Homo sapiens: one gene and its partners. The protein of the gene in region 4 purifies or fractionates together with the protein of the main gene of each other region. This does not show direct contact. Each region holds a gene or a part of one and is shown on either strand. Other genes may lie near its edges.

Region 1 (3,500 bases), on a different chromosome or scaffold from region 4:
TGAGTATGTGCAGTTTATCCATTGTACTCTTGATGGACATTCGGGTTTTTTGCAGGGTTTTGCTATTACATATGTGTTGCTGTGAATTTTCTTATGCTTGTTTTTTAGTGAATTCAAAGTCATAAAATCTATAACAGTTCCTTTTTCCTCTCTTTTGTCTTGCCATTTTCTTGTTGAAGAAATTGGATTATTTCTCCTATTAAAAAAATTCATAGCACTGTTGTAGTAGCAGCCATTATATTTGTTAATATGCAACCTTGAGTCAAAATTGTTCTGTCATCTAAAAAAATTAAGTAAATCATTCAAATAATTTTTAGTGATTTTCCCCCTTTCAAAACCTTTCTACAGTATCTGACTTTTTAACTGTTGCCATGTTACTTTTATAATAATAACATTTTAGAAAAAAAATTTTATGTAATTTACTATTTTGATTGCTTTTAATTTTATAACTATATATTATGTGTTTTAAGTGAAAGTAAATACTAATGTTCTCCTTTGTATATTTCCTTTAATAGGTTTGATATTAAACTGCTCTCAGAATTTTCCTCTTGCCTAGCAGATCAGCATTTGTATTTTAGTCCATTAATGGGAAAAATAGCTGATATTGTTCATAGGAACTTGGAAACCACACAGGACTTAAGGTAAATTTATTTAGGGAATCTTGTGTTGTGGTGGAAAGATCCTGGGCTTTGGATGTGGATGCAGTCAGATTTGCTACTCTTAGTTTATGTGACTTAAGGTTACTTAAGCTCTTGGAAGTTCGTTATCCTCATCTGCAAAAGAGGGATAGTAATAGCTACTTTGCAATATTGCTGTGGGGATTAGACATAAGGTACATAAAGTGTAATACAATATTGTTGAGGTCTGTGGAGGATCTGAGTTTTTACCTATTTGCAAGCTAAGTTTGCCTGCCACATTTTCCTACGTGTGCCGTAGGAAGGCCTGAGACTCCGAGGTCAGAGAGAGGACTTTGTTTTTTATAGCAATAGCAGTAGCAGAGTACCAGAATTTTCTTGTGTTGATTCCCTGAGCTCTCGTTCCCATAATGGGTTGTGATCCAGGAGAGGAGCTCTGAGCTTAGGAAACCTGAATCTTTTATAATAAAGCATGCCTACTCTGCTCCAACAGGAGACATTATCTCTATTCTCCTAGGCTGTTTGCTATGCAAACATCCTTGAAAAGATAGTTCTGAACAAAGGCAGTCAGAAACCCACTGAAAATGGCCTCTGAATAAGTATCTAGAACATAGAAGTTTCTCAGTAATGGATAGTAGGTATTATTATTATATCATGAAGTAAACCCAAGAAGTATTTAAATTAAGTATGAATTCATTGGCCAGGCATGGTGGATCACACCTGTAATCCCAGCACTTTGGGAGGCCGAAGTGGGTGGATCACTTGATGTCAGGAGTTCGAGACCAGCCTGGCCAACATGGCAAAAATCCCATCTCTACAAAAAATACAAAATTAGCTGGGCATGGTGGCGGGCGCCTGTAATCCCAGCTACTCGGGAGGCTGAGGCACAGGAATTACTTGAACCTGGGAGGTGGAGGTTGCAGTGACCTGAGATTGTGCCACTGCACTCCAGCCTGGGCAACAGAGCAAGACTCTGTCTCAAAACAACAATAACAAAAAACGAAAAAAAAACAGTAACAAAACTTGAAACAACAACAACAAAATCCAAAAAAACCAAAAAATAAATTAATAAATAATTAATTTACAATAAATTAATAAATAATTAATTTACAATAAATTAATAAATAATTATTTTACAATAAATTAATAAATAATTATTTTACAATAAATTAATAAATAATTAATTTACAATAAATTAATAAATAATTAATTTACAATAAATTAATGAATAATTAATTTACAATAAATTAATGAATAATTAATTTACAATAAATTAATAATTAATTTATAATAAATTAACAAATAATTGATTTACAATAAATAAATAATTTATAATAAATAATTTACAATAAATTAATAAATAATTATTTTACAATAAATTAATAAATAATTTACAATAAATTAATAAATAATTTACAATAAATTAATAAATAATTTACAATAAATTAATAAATAATTTACAATAAATTAATAAATAATTTATAATGAATAATTAATTTATAATAGATTAATAATTAATTTATAATAGATTAATAATTTATAATGGATTAATTTATAATTAATTTATAAACAAATTCACAAATTTTACATACAATTATGTCTTTTTTATTCTTTCCATCTGGGAATACTTTCTTTTCAGTTTCATAAAGGAGAGTTAATAGTTACATTTGCTGAATGTCAAGGAACTATTAATTTGAAACTAACATTTAAGGAGTTTCTCTGGTTTTCATACCAGTGGTTTGAGGGTTTGTTTTGTTTTTAACATAAGATTACTTACTGTCAATGCTAACCTTCATAATCCAGTACTATGATTGTCTTTGGCGTTTCAGATACAGCTTTTTCTCTCATATTTACAAAGTGATTAGCACTTTGGTAAAATTAAATTATAGTAGTTTCCTGCTCTTCTTGCCCCACTCCACCCTACTTCCCTGCCTTTTTTTTTTTCTTTTGAGATGGAGTCTCCCTCTGTTTCCCTGACTGGAGTGCAATGATGCAACCTCTGCCTCCTGGGTTCAAGCGATTTTCCTGCCTCAGCCTCCTGAGTAGCTGGGATTACAGGTGCTCGCCACCACATCCAGCTAATTTTTATATTTTTAGTGGAGATGGGGTTTCACCATGTTGCCAGGCTGGTCTCAAACTCCTGACCACAAGTGATCTGCCCACCTCGGCCTCCCAAAGTTCTGGGATTACAGGCATGAGCCACCATGCCCAGCCCCTTGCCTTTTTTTTAAAAAAAATACACTTATGTGGCTGGGTGCAGTGGCTCATGCCTGTAATCCCAGCACTTTGGGAGGCTGAGGTGGGAGGATTGCTTAAGCCCAGGAGTTTGAGACCAGCCCTGGCAACATAGCAAGACTCTGTTTCTACAAAAAAAAAAAAAAAAAAAAAAAAGAATTGATCATTCTTAATTGATGTAAAAATCTTTGCATCTTTTTTCTTTTTCAGTTCCTTGTCTGTCTTGATGGTCAACATATCTTCTTTAATATCACGACATTTTCAACAACAACTGGTGAACAAAACAGAACTTCTTTTTGACACCATAGATTCTTCTGAGGTCAACGTTGCAAAAAGCATAGCAAAGTTTCTTCGAAATGTTAGATATCGTTATCAACCACTATTAGAAAGATGTAATAACGTATTTTTAAGTAATGTGGACCACCTTGATTTGGATTCCATCAGTAAAATACTTAGTGTATACAAATTTCTACAATTTAATAGTTTTGAATTTATTATAATGGCTAAAAAGAAGCTAACTGAAATGATTCCTCTGTGTAATCATCCTGCTAGCTTTGTAAAATTGTTTGTAGCATTGGGACCCATTGCAGGACCTGAAGAAAAGAAACAGTAAGTTCAGTTTAAAATGCA
Region 2 (3,500 bases), on a different chromosome or scaffold from region 4:
AGTTGGGTGTGGCGGCATGTGCCTGTAATCCCGGCTACTCAGGAGGCTGAGGCAGGAGAATCGCTTGAACCAGGGAGTTGGTTGCAGTGAGCCGAGATCTTGTCACAGCACTCCAGCCTGGCGACAGAGTGAGACTCCGTCTCAAAAAAAAAAAAAAAAAAAGAAAAAGAAAGTGATTCCATAGCTGATGTCTCTTGGTGGAGAAGTGGGTTTTGCCCCCTTTGTTTCCTTGACACTGTCCCTGCAATCTCACTAGTGGTGTGGTGTTAGAAAGAGATGGCTGCTCTGTGTGACCTTAGCCAGTTCATTTGTAAAATAGAAGCCTCAGTTCATGTGTAAAGTAGAAATCATAATGGTCCTTTCCCCATGGGGTTGTTATAGGATGACCTGAGATAGTGCAGGTTGCAGTGCCTGGGACTAAGTAATTGCTCAATAAATACCAGCTATTTGTTGCGACTGGCTGTTAACCTTCTGTTTAAGAATGATAGCTGATTAACAGCCTCTAATTATGCTAAAAAATGTTCCTCTTCCTCCTTAATGGCCTCCTCCCTCCCCATCCCAATCTGTGTTCAGTGCTTGGAGGGCTTGTTGTTGCAATCTCTTCCCACCTTTCCATTTCTACGACCAGCATCTCAGTTTACTGTTGGTTCTACCTGGAAGCATTACGGCAACCCCTACCCACCCTGAACCGCTCATGTGTGTGTCTGGTAGGGTCTTTTCTCTGTTTAAAAACCTCAGTGGCCCCTCTCACCTGCACAGAGTTTACAGTAAGATTTCTTCACTTGGACACTGTTGACCCTTTGGGCCCTGTGATTTTTTTTTTTTTTTTTTTTTTTTGAGACGGAGTCTCGCTCTGTCGCCCAGGCTGGAGTGCGGTGGTGTGATCTTGGCTCACTGCAAGCTCCGCCTCCCGGGTTCACGCCATTCTCCTGCCTCCCAAGTAGCTGGGACCACAGGTGCCCGCCACCACGCCTGGCTAATTTTTTGTATTTTTAGTAGAGACGGGGTTTTACCATGTGAGCCAGGATGGTCTTGATCTCCTGACCTCGTGATCTGCCCACCTCGGCCTCCCAGAGTGCTGGGATTACAGGCGTGAGCCAGCGCGCCGGGTCTGGGCCCTGTGATTTTTGTTGTGGGGCTATCCTGCGTGTCGAAGGATGTTGAGCAGCATCCCTGGCCTCCACCCACTAAATGCCAGCAACACTTCCCTCCCCCTGCTGTGACAACCAAAAATGCCTCCAGACATTGCTGAGTGTCCTTTGGAGGGACAGTCATCCCGGCTGAGAACCACTGCGCTCGTAGTCTGTTTTCAGTTCGCCTTTCTGGCTTCCTCCTACCCCCTGGTCATTCTTTTGTTCTTTGGCTTGCTTGGTTCGTTAGCCACCAGCTGTTTCTGGGGAGCCTAACTGTGCTAGGCAGTGGGCTGCACTCCTTGGCGTTCCCCTGGCTGGAAGACCCCGGGTGCTGGCCGCTTTTCTGAATGTGTTCTGGTTGCGTATCATCCTCAGCTATTTGCTTTTGAGTGGGATGTCGTTCCCCTACCTAATCTCAACCTTTGAAGTCTTACCTGTTCTTTCAAGCTAGGCCCAGATGTGACGTCCTCCCTGAAGCCTGCCTTGTTCCCCACCCCACCTTGGAATTTGACCTTTCCTACGCCCTTGCCACATTTCACATAATTGTGTGTGTGTGTGGTGTCTCCTGCACTGTTATAGCATAAGCCCCAAATGGAGTGAGAAGCTGTGCTCTTCCTAGTGTCAGGCTTTGGAAAGCTGGACTGGGCAATTACACCGGCTAGAAATTCTCCTCAAATCCATCTTTCAGGCCGGGCACGGTGGCTTGTGCCTGTAATCCCAGCACTTTGGGAGGCTGAGGCAGGCGGATCACTTGAGGTCAGGAGTTTGAGACCAGCCTGGGCAACATGGTGAAACCCCGTCTGTACTAAAAACACAAAAATTAGCCGGGCGTGGTGGCGCATGCCTGTAGTCCCAGCTACTCAGGAGGCTGAGGTGGGAGGATTATCAGACCCTGGGGGAAGGTCAAGGGTGCAATCCCACTTCACTCCAGCCTGGGCGACAGAATGAGACGCTGTCCCCCCCCCACCAAAAAAAATCCATTTTTCCCACAGATGCTGCAAGAGAGCTATTTAAAATGCAGCAGCTCATGCCACTGATTAAAACCCTTTGGTGCCTCCCCAGCACACACGAGAGAAAGTCCACGTTCTTGGAAGTGGCACACAGGTCCAAGATCTGGCCTCGCCACTTTCTGCCTGCCTTGGGCGGCAGGCTTGACCTCATGTGACCGCCCCCACTCACGGCTGTTTTTGCTACTGTCTCCCCTGCCTGGAGCAGTGGCTTTCAGACTGCAGCTCATGACCTATTTGTGTGTTTGGAAGTGAATTTTGAGGGCCCTAAATTTTTTTTGACTTGAATAGAAAAGAAAAACCCAGAGTGCCCGTAGGTCTACCATTCTCAGACATAGCTGGTGTGTCCCCATCTAGCCACTCTAAAGGAGCCTGTCCCACTCCCGCCAGTCCCATCCCGTGTTATTTCCTATGTGTCACTTTTCACTCTCGGAAATTGTCCTCTTTGTTTGTTTGCTTGCATCCTGTCTCCCTCCTTCACTTGTGTGTGGAGGGGCCTTGTGAACAAGGATGTTCAGGGCTGTGTCCCTGGGACCTAGAATGTACCAGGCACATGTAATGAGTCGGGAGGGTGGGGGAGCCTGGGGGTGTGTTGTGTGCAGCGTGGGGCTCAGGGCCTGGGAAGATACCGCGCTGGGCCTCGTTAACTGCCCTGTGTGTGCAGGCAGCTACATCACCACGATCGGAGTGGATTTCAAGATCCGGACCGTGGAGATCAACGGGGAGAAGGTGAAGCTGCAGATCTGGGACACAGCGGGGCAGGAGCGCTTCCGCACCATCACCTCCACGTGAGTCCACACGCCCACTCCCACCCAACCCGCGCCACTGACCTGTGGACACAGTTGAGCGACCGGTGCCTGGTCATGGTGGAAATGTCACTGGTGGGTCCCTGAGGCTGTCGGGAAGTGAGCCTGTTGTTGGCTGTAGTAGGTGGCGTTTGGCTGCACCCTTCCTGGTCCTGAAGATGTGAGGGGGGTGCTGTGGGGGAGTCGCTGAGCACCCTGGCTGGAGTCTGGCCGGACAGTGGCCATGTTCTATCTCCTTGGAGAGTCAGCCGACCCTCCGGCCCACTGTGCCGTCACCTTACAGAGAGAGCAGAATAGCATTTGCCTCGCTAGGGGGTTGCGAAGTGCCTTGCCCACCCAGGACTTAGTCGCTGACAATTCCTCTTGGTAGGTGTCAGTTATGGCAGCTGGAGTTGGCCTGTGCAGGCTCCCGTCACCTGCACTGATGCCTTGGAAGTGACGCTGTCTAGAGACGAACACGGTGCATGTCAGCAGGCCCTTCCCTACCCTTAAAGCTGTTCCTGGGAAATCCGGCCGCCCACCGGTTGCCCACCTTTGTGGCTGAGCTGCAGGCC
Region 3 (3,500 bases), on a different chromosome or scaffold from region 4:
CTAGATTTGAGCCTAGACATTGTGGACACTCAAACAGCCCATTTGTGGATGAATGAATGAACTGGGAGAGCAGGTAGATCCAGGTTGTAGTCTCCGAGTACACTGGGTAGTGCTGTTTTTCTGTATTGTATAGATATCAAATAAGAAGATGGTAAGAACTCTGTGGCCTCTTTCAAGATGATGGTATGATTGCCTTAGGGAACTAATAGCTAAGAAGCAGCTTTTCGTTGTTAAATTTCAAGTATGTTTTGTTAACTGGAATTGGACAAAGTTAAACTGTTGTTAAGTTAGAATCTGTTTTCCATTAATAGATACTTATTTAAATCAAAAATTTCAGCTGAAGGAGTCCAATACTTGATTTATACTCTAATTATATTCTGAATGTAAATAGAACTTCTAAAGGTAGTCCCTACACAAAATACCACAAATTCAGAGTTCACCGTCTGACTTGATTATATACACATTATCAATGTAAGGAAAAGACATTTGGAAAAAATACTGCATATAAATGACACAATTGGATAGTTGGGGATCATATTAAATGAGGCAGTTCAAGTGGATAAATGAGCTCCATTGGCCTTTATAGCTAGGGAAATCACAGCTTTCTAGGAAGAGAAGATGAGAAGAAAGATAAAACAGAGATATATTATTCATGTGATGGAAGAAGATACTGACATAGTTTAGAAATTCCCTGACCGGATCCAAGTTGAACTAAGGCCAGACTATATCCCAGATATTCAACCAAGTTTAAACCAGCTTGTAATAGTACTTCAAAACTAAGTTTAACTGTCAGTAACTTCTTTTGTGTCACCCTAGAACCAACTACTAGGTATTTTATGGTGTTGGATTCCAGAGTCCCTGTAATGATGATGGCAAAGCTTTGCCCCTCTATTCTAGCACGTATACAAGGAAAGAGAAAGTTTTGTCCTCCTTTTGTTTAATTCTCTTTTCCCTTACACCTGGAGCAGTATCATCCAGTAACAGGTTCTCTGTAATGGTTTGTTAGACTAAATTAGTACAACTTAAATACGTCCATATATGACCAGGTTCTTCTTATGCCAAGAGTGAACTCTGTGCTGAATCAGTTAATGTTCTACTAAATAAAGGAAATTCACATTCGCTTTCTTGTTAGGTTCATGCAAATATTGAAAACTCTTGGAATGAGGAAGAAGTTTGGAGAATTGAAATGTATATCTCCTTTGGCATAATGAGCCTTGGCTTACTTTCCCTCCTGGCAGTCACTTCTATCCCTTCAGTGAGCAATGCTTTAAACTGGAGAGAATTCAGTTTTATTCAGGTATGTGGGGTTTTGTTTGGTGAAGGATTGTGCAGGATAGGATTTCCTTGTTAAGAACAACTGCATTTTAAATATGTTCCTTATTAAAAGGGTGCCTTTGAGGCTGTATTTATGCATCTAGATACATTATGCTGGAAGCCAGCTTAGGATTGCTCTGGTTAAATAAGTGAAAGACCAGTCAGTATATGATTGTACTGGAAGACTTTGACAGCACTGCCTTCCAGTATACTATGTTAAGAACAAAAAAGTTATCTTAAAAGAGAAAAAAAAAATGAAAGTTGGGAAGGATGAGCTTAGATCAAATTTAATGTTGAAAGTCAATTTATTATTAGCCAAGTGAATGAAAAATTATTTTATGTTTTGAGTCATCTTGATTTGTCCAGAAAAATCTTATTAATTTGAACTCAAGTGGGGATGTCAATCTGAATATTTTAAAGAAATGTGTGTATATATACACACACATACAAACACAAGCAGTGGCAAACTAGGTAACTAGAGTAATGGATTATAACATGCAACCAGCCTTAAGAATTTTGTTAGTATATCAGTAGTATACTAATACGTATGGATGTCTGTAAAGGGATTTCAAACCACCATTGTATTCTTTAATAAGTTAAACATTCACCTTCTCCAATAATATCTAAATAATAAGGTTGCATATTTTAAAAATATATAACTGAAACATAGACCCTTCCTATATTTTCACAAAATCTGTACTGGTTGTATCCAAATGGTTTACAGCATAGTAGACAGATTCATGTCCTTTGGTGGTACACTTAAGTTTTGTTTCAATTCATTGCTTATTTGCTTGTTTTTTTTTTTAAGGTCCTGTAAAAATCTCATTCAAAGCAGGGCCAAAATGCTTATCTGAATTTATTTTTCCTTTTTGAAGAAAAGGGAGAGTACTTTCCCAACAGCTAGTTTAATCATACCCGAAAAGAAATAGAAGGTTCTAGACAGATGCAAATTATCATTATAAATTTAGATGAGTAATTGCAAATATTTTGCCTGCTGGAGGGTTGATATTTTCCAGTAAAGTTAGACATTACATCACTATACTGATGTAATATTACTTTTATATAACAGACTATTCTTCAAAGTAAGCACTCTTAAACATAATAATTTAGCGAACTAAAGAATGATGAGCTTTTAGAATTTAAACTGTAAAGTGCCTAACTGAAGTATTCTTAATAAACTCTATATTTTAATTGTTGTTTATATTAATACTGCAGGATTTTTCATATTTGCCTATTAACCAGTGTGTATATATGTGTGTGTGCCCATGAGGATGCTCATTTAATTTTAATTTAATTTAATTAATTTTAATAATTTTAAATTAGTTTATTTAATTTTATCATATGTCTGTTTATGTATTAACAGTGATGTGTTACCTAACAGTAGGGAACGTTCTGAGCAATGAGTCGTTAGGCAGTTTTATCATGTGAACATCATAGAGCATATTTATACAAACCATGACCTATTGCTCCCAGGCTACAAACCTGTACAGCATGTTACTGTACTGAATATTACAGGCACTTGTAACACAATGGTAAATATTTGTGTATCTAAACATATCTAAACAGAGAAAAGGTACAGTAAAAATAAGGCATATAATCTTATGGGACCACCGTTGTATATGCAGTCCATAGTTGACCAAAATGCCCTTATGTGGCACATGACTATATTTATGTGTATGTGTATACACACACACATACATACACATTTCTTTAATACACAACTGGTGGGAATGTGAATAATTTTTATAAAGAAGAGTCTAGCAGTATGTATCAGTACCCTTAAGGAAAAGCTAGATGTTTTGACCAATAATCCTACTATTAGAAACCAGTCCTAAGAAAATAAATCAAAATATGGAAAATGGCCTAACATGACATTTATAGTTGAGGAAAGTTGGAAACAGTGAATTATCAACAAAAAGGAATGGTTTAATAAATTATGCACATCCATTCAATAGAATATTATACAGTATTAATGTCATTTTCATATTTAATGACATGAGGAAAATGTTCTTGATAAAATAAATGAAGTAGTAAGAATATTAAACTGTATGCAGTAGGGCCTTATTTGTGTAACATAAGGTGTGCATATAAATAATACATATATATGCATATATAAAAATATTAATATTATTTAATTCAGTAGAGGACAAAGGTTAACTTGATAATTTAAGACAAAATAGTTTTAT
Region 4 (3,500 bases):
CACATTCTTCTTTGGAAGAAAGAAAGAAATAAGAGCAAGCTATCAGAGTAATTAAAAAACACATTATAGATGGAGAATAACTGTGAGAGGCATTGTATTAGTGATCTACAGCTGCATAACAAATTACCACTAATTTAGCAGCCTGAAACACCTATTTATTATCTCACAGTTGATGTGGGTCAGGAGTCCAGGCACAGCTTAGCTGAGTCCTCTGCTTTGGGTCTCATAAGGATGCAATCAAGGTGTCAACAAGGGCTGTGTTCTCATCTGGCTCATCTGGAGGCTTGACTGGGGAAGGGTCCATTTCTCCACTCCTGTGGTTGATAGCAATATCTGGTTCTTTATAGCTGTAGGATTCATGCTAGAATGATTCTGCAGCACTTGCAAGAAGAGAGATTGAGAGAGAGAGAAGAAAGAGAGAGCAAATGCCCTAGCAAACAGAGTTTTATGTAATGTAACATAATCAAGAGCATAACATCCCATCACCTTTGCCATAGCTATTGGTGAGAAGAAAGTCACAGATCTCCACACTCAAGGTGAGGGGATTAGACAAAGGCATGAACACCAGGAAGCAGGGCTCCTGAGTCTCCTGAGTGCCCCCTTAGGGTCTATCTGCCACAAGCATGAAGGATGAGAATGACCCAACCACACCGATATCTGGAGAACAGCCCTCCAGGGAGAGAGAGCAGCAAAAGCAAAGTCTCAGAAGTGTGAGTGTTCCTGGAATGATTGAGACACAGAAAGGAGGACATAAGGCAGGGCCTAGAGCATCTAGGATCTTGTGGGTGTTTGAACTGGTCCTAGAGTCTGCTTTGAAAGAACAGGAACCCACTGATGAAGTTGAGCTGGAGGATGGCATGATTTTATTTATATGCTGGAAGGGTCACTGGCTGCTTTTTTTTTTTTTTTTTTTTTTGAGACAGGGTCCCACTCGGTTGCCCAGGCTGGAGTGCAGTGGTGCAATCACAGCTCACTGCAGCCTTGACCTCCCAGGCCCAGGTAATCCTCCCACCTCAGCCTCCCAAGCATCTGAGATTACAGGCACAGGCCATCATGCCCGGCCTCTGGCTGCTTTTGGAAAATAAGGGACTAGATGTAGTAAGAGTTGGTGCGTTTCAGGCAATACGACTTTTTAAATTTAAAAATATCAAATTGACAAATGAAGATTGTATATATTCAAGGTATACAATCTGATGATTTGATCCACCTGTACATTGTGTAATGATTATCACAGTCAAATTAATTAGCACATCCATTGCCACCATGCTGAGCACCTGAACTTCTTCATCTTAGAACTGGAAACTTATACCCTTTCATCAACATCTCCGCATATATCATGCTAAACAAAATAAGCCAGACTCAGAAAGACAAATTCTGCAGGATCTCACTCATATGTGTAGTCTAAAAAAGCCAAACTCACAGAAGCAACTGGTGGTTGCCAGGGACTGGTGAGTAGGTGATATTTCATTTCATTTTTATTTTTATTTTTATTTTTTTTTTGAGACGGAGTCTGGCTCTGTCCCTCAGGCTGGAGTGCAGTGGCGCGATCTCGGCTCACTGCAAGCTCCGCCTCCCGGGTTCACGCCATTCTCCTGCCTCAGCCTCCCGAGTAGCTGGGACTACAGGGGCCCGCCACCACGCTCGGCTAACTTTTTGTATTTTTAGTAGAGACGGGGTTTCACCATGTTAGCCAGGATGGTCTCGATCTCCTGACCTTGTGATCTGCCCGCCTCGGCCTCCCAAAGTGCTGGGATTACAGGCGTGAGCCACTGCGCCCGGCCAAGTAGGTGATATTTTAACTTAGACTAAATGGTGCCACTGTGGAGATAGAAATATAGGCCAGGTGCAGTGGCTCATGCCTGGAATCCCAGTATTCTGAGTGGCCAAGGCAGGTTGATCACTTGAGGCCAGGAGTTTGAGACCAGCCTGGCCAACATGGTGAAACCCTGTCTCTACTAAAAATACAAAAATTAGCAGGGTGTGGTGGCGGGCGCCTGTAGTCCCAGCTACTTGGAAGGCTGAGGCAGGAGAATCTCTTGAACCCGGGAGGCGGAGGTTGCAGTGAGCTGAGATCATGCCACTGCACTCCAGCTTGGGTAACAGTGCAAGACTCAAAAAAAATAAAAGAAAGAAAGAATTTGGGTGAATGGTGTTCTTTGTCAAGATAGAGAAGACTGGCAAGGAATCAAACTGGAGGGGGCGTTAGCAGGGTCATTCATAAATATTTTTGTTATTAAAAATACTATCAAACTCCAGGACTATTAAGAAGAGTAATCTGAGGCTCTGTCCATGCTCTGAGGACCCAGGGAGCATCTAGGGAATGGAGAAGCCATTCTCTTTTCTGCTTCCCAAAGAAGAACAGGATGTCTATAAGTAGGACGTGAGGACTCCTGTCCCCAAGGTTCCTGTATGATTAGTGTAATTCCTTTTCTTCCCTCCTATTTTCTAGATAAACACGATGAACTTGAAGCTCCCTCAATGAAAACAGGTAAGATAATTAGAAAGGAGATGTTTTTCCCAATGAGATCTGCTTCATGATCACCTTTGCTTAAAGTGCACAAGGAGAACTTTATTTATTTGTTTGTTTGTTTGTTTGTTTGTTTTTTGAGATAGAGTCTCGCTTTGTCACCAAGGCTGGAGTACAGTGGCGCAATCTCAGCTCACTGCAACCTTCGCCTCCCGGATTCAAGCAATTTTCCTGCCTCAGCCTCCCGAATAGCTGGGACTACAGGCACGCACCACCACACCCAGCTAATTTTTGTATTTTTAGTAGAGACGGGGTTTCACCATGTTGGCCAGGCTGGTCTCGAACTCCTGACCTTGTGATCTGCCCGCCTCAGCCTCCCAAAGTGCTGGGATTACAGGCGTGAGCCACCGCACACGGCCTATTTATTTTTTTGAGAAAGAGTCTTGTTCTGTCCCCCAGGGTGGCGTGAAGTGGCACAATCTCAGCTCACTGCAACCTCCACTTCCTGGGTTCTGGGTTCAAGCAATTCTCCTGCCTCGGCCTCCCGAATAGCTGGGATTACAGGCACCCACCACCATATCCAGCTCAGTTTTGTTTTTTGTTTTTTGTTTTTAGTAGAGATGGGGTTTCACCATGTTGGCCAGGCTGGTATCAAACTCCTGACCTCAAGCAATTCCCCCGCCTCGGCCTCTCAAAGTGTTGGGATTACAGGCATGAGCCACCGCACCCGGCCTAGAAGAACTTTAAAGCCCATTTTCTCAATGTTATTGGGGAAACTGCTGTGTTTTGGGGGGTGGAGGATGAGGGGAGATAACCTCTAAAGTGCTTCCGGGTTCTGAAGAAGCTGGTGTGTAAAACAGCACAGAGTGCGTTGTTTGCCATATGACATGATGAAAAACTAGGGTGGGATTTGGGGAATAATGGGGGTGAATTTTTCAGTGACCCATTTGGGGAGTAGGACCAGGACCTACGCAGAGTAGGTACTTCAGGAATATATATAATCAAGAGTTTGTTATAACTCTAAAATTCTCAA
Region 5 (3,500 bases), on a different chromosome or scaffold from region 4:
CCGCGTAGCTGGGATTACAGGCGTGCGCCACCATGCCCAGCTGATTTGTTTTTGTATTTTAGTAGAGACAGGGTTTCACCATGTTGGCCAGGCTGGTCTCAAACTCCTGAGCTCAGGCAGTCTGCCCATCTTGGCCTCCCAAAGTGCAAGGATTACAGGCATAAGCCACTGTGCCTGGCCTACAATTATTCTTTCATATCGATCTTGTATACTGCAACCTTGTTGAACTTGCTTATTTTAATAGTTTTTATTGGATTTCTTAGGATTTCTATAAGGATTGTGTCATCTACAACTATAGTTTTACTTCTTTTTTTTCAGTCTGGATGCGTTTTATTTAATTTCCTTGCTTAGCTGTCCCAGCTAGAACGTCCAATACTGTTGAATAAAATCGGTGCGAGCAGACAGCCTTGTCTTGTTCCTTCTCTTTGTGTAGAAGCATTTAGGCCGGTACCATCAGGTATGATTCCTGCTGTGGGGCTTCATCAGGTCACAGGTACCACCTTCTAGTCCTGCTTTGCTGAACGGTTTTGTTATGAAGAAGTACTAGATTTGATGTGCTGTTTACTGTGTCTAAGATGAGCTTGTCGTTTTTGTTCTTTATTTTAGTGATATGGTGCATTTCATTAAGTGATTTTCAGATGTTAAACCTGCATTCCTGGGATAAATCCCACTTGGTCATGGTGTATAATCGTTTTTATACATTGTTGTGTTCAGTTTGCTGGTATTTTGTTGAGGATTTTCATGTCTATGTAAGAGATCATGGTATATGCTTTTCTTATGCCTTTGTATGATATTTGTAATCTGTACACACACATATAGGTACATACATGCACAATTTTTTTCCAACTCATTTGGGAGAAAATTGAGACATCGTGTCCCTTTATCACTGACTACTAAATATCTTGTTTATTTCCTAAGAATAAGGACATTGTTCTACACAACCATAGTCCAGATGTTGGAATCAGGAAATTCTACATGGAGACCATAATGTCACCTGATCCATGCACTTCCTCGGTCATCCCAGTTCTGTCCCTTTAGCTGCTTTCTGGTATAGGGTACAGCCCAGACACATACATTATGTGGCTGCTGTGCCCTGTTAGCCTCCTGCCCTTGTGTTTGTTGACCTGGATACTTTCAAAGAATTGAGACCAGTTATTTTGTTGAATAGCTCAGGTATGGTGGTGTTTTCTCATGATTTGATCCAGGTGATGCAGTTTTGGGAGGAATCTCATGGAATCGTGCATGTCCCCACCAGTGTATCATATCGGGGGTCCTAGTGTTGGTTTGTTTCAGTGTTGATCTTGTTAGTTCTGATCACTTGTCTATGCTCGGTTTCTGCACTGGAAAGTTGCTGTTTCTGCCTTGTAATAAATAAGTAGTTTGTAGGGAGATCTTTGGGATTAAGTAAACATCTTCTTGTGATTAAACATTTAGTCAGCATCAGGCCGGGTGCGGTGGCTCACGCCTGTAATCCCAGCACTTTGGGAGGCCGAGGTGGGTGGATCACTTGAAGTCGGGAGTTCAAGACCAGCCTGGCCAACATGGTGAAACCCCATCTCTACTAAAAATACAAAAAATTTAGCCAGGTATGGTGGTGGGCGCCTGTAATCTCAGCTACTCGGGAGGCTGAGGGAGGAGAATTGCTTGAACCCGGGAGGCAGAGGTTGCAGTGAGCTGAGATCACCCCACTGCACTCCAGCCTGGGTGACAGAGCGAGACTCCATCTCAAAAAATAAAATAAAATAAAACAAAATAAAATAAGTAAATAAACACTTAGTCAACATCAATTGTTTTTAATTATCTATGGATGGTTTTCTAACTCCAGTGATATTGCTGTACTTAGTTCTTTGGCCTCTGTTGTGACAGAGCCTCTCCTATTCCTTTTTTTTTTTTTTTTTTTTTTTTTTTGAGATGGAGTCTCGCTCTGTCGCCCAGGCTGGAGTGCAGTGGGGTAATCTCGACTCACTGCAAGCTCCGCCTGCCAGGTTCACGCCGTTCTTCTGCCTCAGCCTCCCGAGTAGCTGGGACTACAGGCGCCCGCCACCACGCCCGGCTAATTTTTTGTATTTTTAGTAGAGACGGGGTTTCACCGTGTTGGCCAGGATGGTCTCGATCTCCTGACCTTGTGATCCGCTCAACTCGGCCTCCGAAAGTGCTGGGATTATAGGCATGAGCCACCACGCCTGGCCAGAGCCTCTCCTATTCTTATGTGCATGCATCTCTCTCCGCATGGACTCGTGGTTTGCTGTTTGACGCAGGGGTCCATGCGCAGTCCCTGTTGCTGGCCTTGGTGTTCAAACTGTCCCACACTTGGTCGGTAGCACCCTTCGAGCGCGCAGGCCCCTGTCCTGAGGCCCTGTTGCCCTTTCTGGCGCAGGACGGTGTCCCAGCTCACCTGGGGCTGCCCGTGCCTCTGCTCTGCGGACCCTTCCATGAGCTATTGGTCTCTTGTTTCTGGGAAGCTCGCTCCTTTATTTCTTGAGTATTTCTTGCCCCTGTTTTTGTGTCTCACTGACTTTGGTGTATCTGTTATCCGAAGGCTAGCACTGCTGTCTTCACATCTTTTAGCTTTTTCTTCTTCCATTCTTTTTAAATTTCTTCTTCCTTGAAGTCTTCGGCAGCCTGTTCTTCCAAGTTAGTAATTTCTTCCTCAGTGAATCGTTACATTATTCGTTTCCTGAATTGAATTCTTTATTTCACGGTTATACTTTTTCACACCCTGTCGCTGGGATTTTCCTTGTTCTTGGCTCCTCATTTCCCCGTTGTGGTTCCTTGTTTCCCTGTTGCGGTACTTTTGGTGCATTTTTTCGCACAGGCATTGTCCCCAGTCTGTGTCCTAACGTTCGTGTTTCTGGTGGAGTATGTCCTCACTGTTCGTTATCAGGTATTTTGCAGTTTCTATTTGGTTTCTTTATTAACGCAAATGATTCTTTTATGATCTTTAAAATCTCCAGGTCGATAGGTTTTCATGGGTGTTGTGGATTTATTGTTATATTGAATCTGGCCAGGTTGATTTCTGCTTTTAAGTGTTGGTTGCAATATTATTTTTGGCCTAATGGTCAGGATTTCAAAGTGTATGTTTGGTATGAAGTTCTATCTATATTTTTAGTGCCTACTGTAAAAATTGAAGTTCAAGGCCTAAATATCACTGTTTTTTTTTTTTTTTCTGTGTGACTTTCAGCTTCTGAAAGAGAGGGATTAGAAGTCCCTGCAGTGTTGCCATTTTTCCAAATATGCCGCTTTGTGGTTGAGCTTTTACTTTTTGGTATTTCAAAACCTGAATGGAACGTGTGGGAAACAGAAGTCGTCTGCTTACAGGGACGCCTTCTGGGGAGCTGAGCGTACAGAGAGGACAGCAGACATCCAGCCCACCGTGGCTGCCGAGGCTGGGTGGCGTCCTGGTGGGAACCAGGTTTTCTGACATGGGTAACGTTCCCACAGAGGCTATCCTGTTCCTCCCCTGCAGGCATTGCAACCTCACGAGCAGTGATTTTTTATGG
Region 6 (3,500 bases), on a different chromosome or scaffold from region 4:
GTGTGGCTGAGAAGAAAACGAGTGACAAAATTGCTGCCTTGGTTCCTGGGGCTAATTAGAAAGGAGTGAGGGGATGGTGGGAAAAGTTTTGCCAAGCCATGGATAGAGCCTAGAAGAGAGGAAAGGGAAGATAGTTGAAGACTCACTAAGCTAGGCGTGGTGGCTCACGCCTGTAATCCCAACACTTTGGGAGGCCGAGGCGGGCGGATCACAAGGTCAGGAGTTCAAGACCAGTCTGGCCAACATGGTGAAACCCGTCTCTACTAAAAATACAAAAAAATTAGCTGGGCATGGTGGCGCGTGCCTGTTATTCCAGCTACTCAGGAGGCTGAGGGAGGAGAATTGCCTGAACCCAGACCCAGGACCCAGGAGGTGGAGGTTGCAGTGAGCCGAGATCGTGCCACTGCATTCCAGCCTGAGCTACAGAGCGAGACTCGTCTCAACAACAACAACAACAACAACAAAAACAAAGTACTCACTAGTCAGGCTGACTTTAGAAAAAGCTTTACTTTACCCACACTAATTTAGACATAGAAATAGAGCTGTTTGGCCAGGCACAGTGAGTCACGCCTGTAATCCCAGCGCTTTGGAAGGCTGAGATGGGAAAATTGCTGAAGCCAGGAGTTCAATAACAGCATGGGCAACAGAGTGAGACCCCTGGGCTACAAAAATCAATTTTTTTTTGTTTTAAATTAGCTGAATATGGTGGTGTACACCTGTAGGCTGAGCTACTTTGGAGACTGAGGTGGGAGGATTGCTTGAGCCCAGGAGTTGGAGGTTGCAGTGAGTCATGGGCCATGATCATGCCACTGCACTCCAGCCGGGGCAACAGAGTGAGGCTCTGTCTCATGTTTTTGGGTTTTTTTTTTTTTCTTTAAGAAAGGTGTGTCTCACTGGAAAAAAAAAAAAAGCTTTGAGACCCTATAAAGTTTGATTCAGTATTTTTAAAATGTTGTGGTGGCTAACTGCAATTACATATGGTATGTGAGGGTATGGAAATGCCATTGTATTCTGAAATAGAGCACTACTTTGCTCTTTTTGCATTGATTTCCTAGGTCAAAAGAATAACATCTTTTTGCAACAGTAATTGAAAGCAATAGATTCTTTTCTGTGTTTAGGTTTTGTTTTGTTCTTACTAGGATGTACCTTTGATTTGGATTTGCATTCCTTTCCCTGTCACTAGCAGAACTTTACAAAATATACTCTGCTATCTATTAATACTAGTTTCGGCTCCCAGATGCTTTATCATATAGAAACAGCATTGTAGAAGAGCAGCTAGCTTCACGCCCCTTTCTAATCAATTAACTATAATCTAGCTGTGAATATTGCCCTTGAAAAGTGGATGACCCTTTGGGGCAAAGAAAATTGAAGACGTGTAAGTTCCCAATTTTGTCAATAAGGAAAGTACTAAAGGCACTCAAAGTAGAAACTGTACGTGCTCTGAGAAAAATGTGTTTGGTTTTGCTTGTATAGAGAAATTTAAATTTTTTAATAGAATTAAACAAAGCAAGAGCAAGAGTTGAAAAGTGGAATGCTGACCATTCAAAGAGTGATCGAATGACTCGAGGACTCCGAGCCCAAGTAGATGACCTGACTGAAGCTGTGGCTGCAAAGGATTCCCAGCTGGCTGTACTGAAAGTGAGACTCCAGGAAGCTGACCAGCTACTGAGTACTCGCACAGAAGCATTAGAAGCCTTACAGAGTGAAAAATCACGGTAGGTGATTCTATGAATAATGAAAAAAATGAGCAAGTAATGGTAAACATTGTAGTGTATCCACTTATGAAACTTAGCTTTCTTGGAAATTTACAAGAGGGAATATTTCTTTTGGTAGTGTTAGAAATGTGTATGATTAAAATGGATTCATTGGCTGGGCGTGGTGGCTCAAGCCTGTAATCCTAGCACTTTGGGAAGCCGAGGCAGGTGGATCACCTGAGGTTGGGAGTTCGAGACCAGCCTGACCAACATGGAGAAACCCCGTCTCTACTAAAAATACAGAAAAAAAATTAGCCGGGGGTGGTGGCACATGCCTGTAATCCCAGCTACTCAGGAGGCGAGGCAGCAGAATCACTTGAACCCAGGAGGTGGAGGTTGCAGTGAGCTGAGATTGTGCCATTGCACTCCAGCCTGGGCAAAAAGAGCGAAACTCCATCTCAACAACAACAACATAAAATGGATTCATTGTTTGAACCTTGAGATGCATTGTTAGCAAATTCTGAATTTAAAAGCATTTGTTGTGTCATTAATCTTTCATTATACGGTATGTACTTAATATTTGGATGCCTAAAAATGTAGATTATGTTCCATTAGAAAGGAAAGATTTATCTAAGAATATTTCAGTCAAATTATCTTTTTTGTGCTTGACTAAAGCTGACGCTCTAAAAATTATTCTGCCTTATCACTTGTACACTGTAGACATGAGTTATTTCACATGATGCATTTTCCTTTAGAATAATGCAGGATCAAAGTGAAGGTAACAGCCTGCAGAATCAAGCTCTGCAGACTTTTCAGGAGAGACTGCATGAAGCGGATGCCACTCTGAAGAGAGAGCAGGAGAGCTATAAACAGATGCAGGTTAGAATGAGAGACAGCAGATTCCTATTGTTACTTGGACACGGAAAAAATGACTTTATGCTGTTTCATAGCACATTAACTGTCTAATATAATTCTGCAATGCATTTCAGAAAATTCTGTTTCTGTGACAAAAATCAGATATTTGAAAATTTAGCTTGATCCTTGCTAAATGTATTTAATTTTATGTGTTGAGAGACAATTAAAATAGTTAATGTGCATTAGAGATATACATCTTTTACTTAATTTTTGCAACAATCATTGTCATTATTTGATTAAATGCTAATGGTTGGGGGATCGTATTTGTTTTTTATTAATTTAAGTTTTTCTGATTCCAGATTAATCTGGCTCATTTATTTCAGGAGAAAATTGTATGTAATATGTAAAGAGTTTTACTCTTAGATGAATATTTGCATTTAGTTCAGTCCCAGCCCTGTCTACACGTGGGAATCACTTGTGTGATACCTTGTGCTGTCTGAGCTCCATATGCAGTCACATTCCATTGTATGAGGTAGGGACTAGGTATTGACACTTTGGTTTTAGAAGGTTCACAGGTGTATCTAATGAGCAGTCAGGGTTGCAAACCACTGGTCTGGGCTAGCTTTTCAACAGGTGAAAGTAATTCAGTCCTGAAAGTAAATATCAGGTAGTGTGTGTCTCTTAATTTTAACACAATATATCCAAAGTATTAATTATTTCAATATGTAGTCAATATTAAAAGTTATTAATGAGATATTTTACATTATTTTTTGAATACTGGTTCTTTAAAATATGGTGTAATTTACACCTATTTATTTACTTATTAAATTGGAAACAGTTGATCAGCTAGTATCAGACCAGACCTAGTATCCAAGTGACCAGGTTCACCTGGGAAATTTCTTAAAAAACAGATTCCCAGACCCATCTTGAAAATTCCAGTTTAGTAAGCTT
Region 7 (3,500 bases), on a different chromosome or scaffold from region 4:
AAAGAGACAATAAATAACAAATAATTAAATATCTAGGATATCAGACAGAGAAGAAAGGAGGGAAGGAGGATGAAGGCTACAGGGAGGGTGTGTGATTTTACATAGGGTGGCCAGGGAACATCTTGTGAAGGAGGTGACATCTGAGCAAAGAAGCACCGGCCTGAACAGATGAGGGCTTGACGGTGGGGTTATCTAGGGAAGAGCCCAGTAGGTGTTGGGGAGTGGGCTAGTTTAGGTCAGGTGGTCAGGGGAGACCTCTAGGAGGAGGCGGCACTGGAGATGAGTGTGGTAGAAATACGGGGATCTGGGAAAAGTAAGGCCAAAGCCCAGAGTGGCAAACAGCCTGGGCGTGTGTGAGGAACGGCAGTGGCTGGAAAGACCCTGTGCTCCCAGGCAGCCCAGGTGGCCCTTGATTCCTTTCAGACTGCTGTGTGGGTTCCGGGGTGGCGGGGTACTGGGCCAGGTCCCTAATCTCAGCTTGCTGCACCCCAGCTCTTCCTGCTGAGAAGTGACGTGGCTACTTGCACACCTCGGGGGTTTCCGGTCCGTGGTTAGCTCCTTCCCCTAACAGCATGGTGTTCACACAGGCTTTTAAACACCCAGCTGGCCCTGAAGACATCTAGTGGCCTGTAAATGTCAGAGCCCTGCTGCATCCATCGCTAGAAATCATTTCACTAATACTCTGTGCAGCAGGGAGGGAGGGAGGGCGAGCAGCTGGAGAGGATGTTCTCTGGGCTCTGTCTGCTCTTTGTCTCATTCCTCTGCCCAGCCCCATCCTCAGCCACGCCTGCGAGGGCCACCTCCTCTCACCTACATCCAGCGTCCTACCCCTTCAAACTCTGGGTCCCTGGCCACTCCTTCAGGATCCCACGGTCTGACCTGGGCTGGCCCACCTGGCAGCTGGGGAGGCCCAGCTGTGCCCCGTTCTTCCTCCCCTTCTGGTCAGGGCTAATCATGAGGCAGGATTATTGTCCAGCTCAGCCGGACCCAGAGGTCTGGCTGCCTGGAATCCTCGGCCTCCTGTGAGCTGCGTGGATCACAGTGACAGCAGTAATCCCCTTCTTGGAAAGAGCTTGGCCGTGTGCTGAGTGCTTTCCATCTATTATCCCCACAAATCTTCACAACAGCCCAGTGAGGGCGACCCTGTTAACCAATTGTACTGATGGAGAAACGGAGGCAGGTGATCACAGGGCCAGGATAAAGAAGCAGAGACAGAGTGTGTGCCTTTCACTCCCAAACCCCTTGCTTTCTCTTCTGAGATGGCAGCAGGGACACATCTCCTTCATCCTCTTCTCCACTTGTTTCCTGTGCTCTGGGAAGCCTTCTTGACCCCAGTTGGGCCAGGCCTTCCATTGCACATTCCCAGAGCACCTTCTCCTTCCTTCTCTGAACCTGTGCTGCAACGGTGGTCATTACAAAATCATCCTTTCTGCTGGCCTGTGAGGGCATGGAATTCCAGCATCTTGTTCACCTTGTCGCCATGTAGAAGGCTCAGTGACGTTGGCTAAATGAGTAAATGAATGACTGAAGAATAGGTGAGCTTCTGTGAAGGCCCTCCTTGCTCTGTCAGGGTGACAGGTGAGGAAACAGTCAGGACATCTCCCAGTTGGGCATCATGGGTTTGTTCATTTGTGTGTTAATTCTATATGCTGACCCCTGACAGCAGAGTGAAGGCAGGTGGGGGCCAACAATGAATCTGATAGGAGCTTACTCTCATGGGTTCCAGACAAGTTGGCCCCAGGTGGGAGCCCTGACCAGCCACTGCCAGTGAGATCAGGCTTTAGAAGAGGGTCAGAGGAGTCAGGAGCATCTTCTGCCTGGGGGACTGGAGAAGCTTCCTGGAGAAGTGATGCTTGAGCTAAGTCTTTAAGTTTGGGTGGAATTCAAGCACAGGAGCTGTGCGGAGGCAGCCCTTCAGGCAGACAAAGCTGAGGGAAGAGAGAGTGGCAGAGGGAAGGAGGAGGGATGGGAACGGGCCACTGAGCAGGCCACGTTGGCTAGAATATGAGGAGCACTTCAGATAGTTAGGGATATTAGAGATATTCCAGTTGGAAGGATGGGGTGGAATCAATCTTGTAGGGCGCTGAATGTCCCTAAGACTTTTCTTGGCGAACAGGTGCAAAGTGCAAAAGTGGCATTTTGGAGGCCTTTGAATTCTCAAACTTGAATAGAAGCCAAATTTTTGGGTGTGACCAGGAGACTTCTAACTAATTAAAGTAAAACATATTTCCCAGGGCTGGCACAGTGGCTCACGCCTGTAATCCCAGCACTTTGGGAGGCCGAGGCGGGCGGATCACAAGGTCAGGAGATTGAGACCATCCTGGCCAACATGGTGAAACCCTGTCTCTAGTAAAAATACAAAAATTAGCTGGGCATGGTGGCGTGTGCCTGTAATCCCAGCTACTCAGGAGGCTGAGGCAGAATAATCGCTTGAACCAGGGAGTCGGAGGTTGCAGTGAGCCAAGGTTGCGCCATTGCACTCCAGCCTGGTGACAGAGCAAGACTCCGTCTCAAAAAACAAAAAAAACCAAAAACATATTTCCCCGAAAATGATCAGGACTAAGATCACTGAACCTTTTCCAGAAGGTTGGGAGCTGTCTCTGAGGCAGGTGGTGCTGTTCATGTGAGCATGAACTGATTACCTGGTCCTAGGCTCATGTAGACAGTGTGGGCTTTTCCCTTTGGCACCCCAGCCCAGCAACTCCAGCCCAACAGGTCTGGCCCAGGGCTCCTGCCCTGTGGGGACAGTCTGAGGTAGAGTGACCAGCTCCTCCCAGTTTACCCAGGACCACCTGGAAAGTCTCCTGTCTTAGGAAACCACTCAATCCCAGGAAAATCAGGGCACTCGGTCACCCTCATCTGAGATCCTGTCTTGCCGGCTGGTGGGCTGTGCAGCTGGCTCACCCTGCAGGCTCTAGGCAGTTGGGAAGAGCAATATTGCTCCCAGAAGCTCCTGGTCTGATGGGAGGTGATAGAGACATCCAAATCCAAGTGACAGATGCTCACTTAGACCCTGTTACAGTTCACATGACGGACACAGAGGCTGCGTCTCTCTCCACTGCCATACACCAGCTCCCAGACCCCATCTCCTTTGTCTCCAGGACGTCTCTGCCCACTTCCCCTGGACAGACCTGCCTCGTGTTCCACCTGAACTGGCTCAGGGCTCTGCAGAACAGGCCCTGACTGGGCCTTTCCCTTCAATTGTAGTTATCTCTCCAAGATCCCAAATTTGTTCTCCCCACCCCTGCCCTGTCCCCCCACAAACCCCACAGAATTTGGGTGACTCTCTGGTGCCCTCAGCATATCAGTGATATGAGTCCAGCCTTTGTGATTTTTCCTTCTGCATCCCGCCTTGTACCTTCATTTCTTTTTTTTTCTTTTTTTCTTTTTTTTTTTTTTGAGACGGAGTCTTGCTCCGTTGCCCAGGCTGGAGTGCAGTGGCACAATCTCAGCTCACTGCAACCTCTGCCTCCCAGGTTCATGCCATTCTCCTGCCTCAG

The links.
Region 1: the proteins of VSTM1 (region 4) and FASTKD1 purify together in Homo sapiens (affinity purification with mass spectrometry; one large-scale study listed by BioGRID and IntAct). This does not show direct contact.
Region 2: the proteins of VSTM1 (region 4) and RAB35 purify together in Homo sapiens (affinity purification with mass spectrometry; one large-scale study listed by BioGRID and IntAct). This does not show direct contact.
Region 3: the proteins of VSTM1 (region 4) and STEAP2 purify together in Homo sapiens (affinity purification with mass spectrometry; one large-scale study listed by BioGRID and IntAct). This does not show direct contact.
Region 5: the proteins of VSTM1 (region 4) and MROH1 purify together in Homo sapiens (affinity purification with mass spectrometry; one large-scale study listed by BioGRID and IntAct). This does not show direct contact.
Region 6: the proteins of VSTM1 (region 4) and GOLGA5 purify together in Homo sapiens (affinity purification with mass spectrometry; one large-scale study listed by BioGRID and IntAct). This does not show direct contact.
Region 7: the proteins of VSTM1 (region 4) and ZDHHC18 purify together in Homo sapiens (affinity purification with mass spectrometry; one large-scale study listed by BioGRID and IntAct). This does not show direct contact.

Annotation. Positions count from the first base shown.
Region 1 is NC_000002.12:169,560,366-169,563,865, reverse strand, and holds part of FASTKD1 (FAST kinase domain-containing protein 1, mitochondrial), read left to right. Parts: intron 1-515; coding exon 516-641; intron 642-3,080; coding exon 3,081-3,479; intron 3,480-3,485; exon of another isoform or gene 3,486-3,500. UniProt on the Homo sapiens protein: Involved in the down-regulation of mitochondrial MT-ND3 mRNA levels which leads to decreased respiratory complex I abundance and activity.
Region 2 is NC_000012.12:120,103,254-120,106,753, reverse strand, and holds part of RAB35 (ras-related protein Rab-35), read left to right. Parts: intron 1-2,804; coding exon 2,805-2,928; intron 2,929-3,500. UniProt on the Homo sapiens protein: The small GTPases Rab are key regulators of intracellular membrane trafficking, from the formation of transport vesicles to their fusion with membranes.
Region 3 is NC_000007.14:90,228,740-90,232,239, forward strand, and holds part of STEAP2 (metalloreductase STEAP2), read left to right. Parts: intron 1-1,132; coding exon 1,133-1,297; intron 1,298-3,500. UniProt on the Homo sapiens protein: Integral membrane protein that functions as a NADPH-dependent ferric-chelate reductase, using NADPH from one side of the membrane to reduce a Fe(3+) chelate that is bound on the other side of the membrane.
Region 4 is NC_000019.10:54,050,398-54,053,897, reverse strand, and holds part of VSTM1 (V-set and transmembrane domain-containing protein 1 isoform 1 precursor), read left to right. Parts: intron 1-923; coding exon of another isoform or gene 924-999; intron 1,000-2,449; coding exon 2,450-2,488; intron 2,489-3,500.
Region 5 is NC_000008.11:144,235,016-144,238,515, forward strand, and holds part of MROH1 (maestro heat-like repeat-containing protein family member 1), read left to right. Parts: intron 1-3,500. UniProt on the Homo sapiens protein: Lysosome fission factor. Recruited to lysosomes by RAB7 (RAB7A or RAB7B) at scission sites and homooligomerizes to mediate the constriction and scission of lysosomal tubules. May sever membranes by inserting amphipathic helices into one bilayer leaflet.
Region 6 is NC_000014.9:92,807,805-92,811,304, forward strand, and holds part of GOLGA5 (golgin subfamily A member 5), read left to right. Parts: intron 1-1,495; coding exon 1,496-1,715; intron 1,716-2,449; coding exon 2,450-2,573; intron 2,574-3,500. UniProt on the Homo sapiens protein: Involved in maintaining Golgi structure. Stimulates the formation of Golgi stacks and ribbons. Involved in intra-Golgi retrograde transport.
Region 7 is NC_000001.11:26,833,188-26,836,687, forward strand, and holds part of ZDHHC18 (palmitoyltransferase ZDHHC18), read left to right. Parts: intron 1-3,500. UniProt on the Homo sapiens protein: Palmitoyltransferase that catalyzes the addition of palmitate onto various protein substrates, such as CGAS, HRAS and LCK. Acts as a negative regulator of the cGAS-STING pathway be mediating palmitoylation and inactivation of CGAS.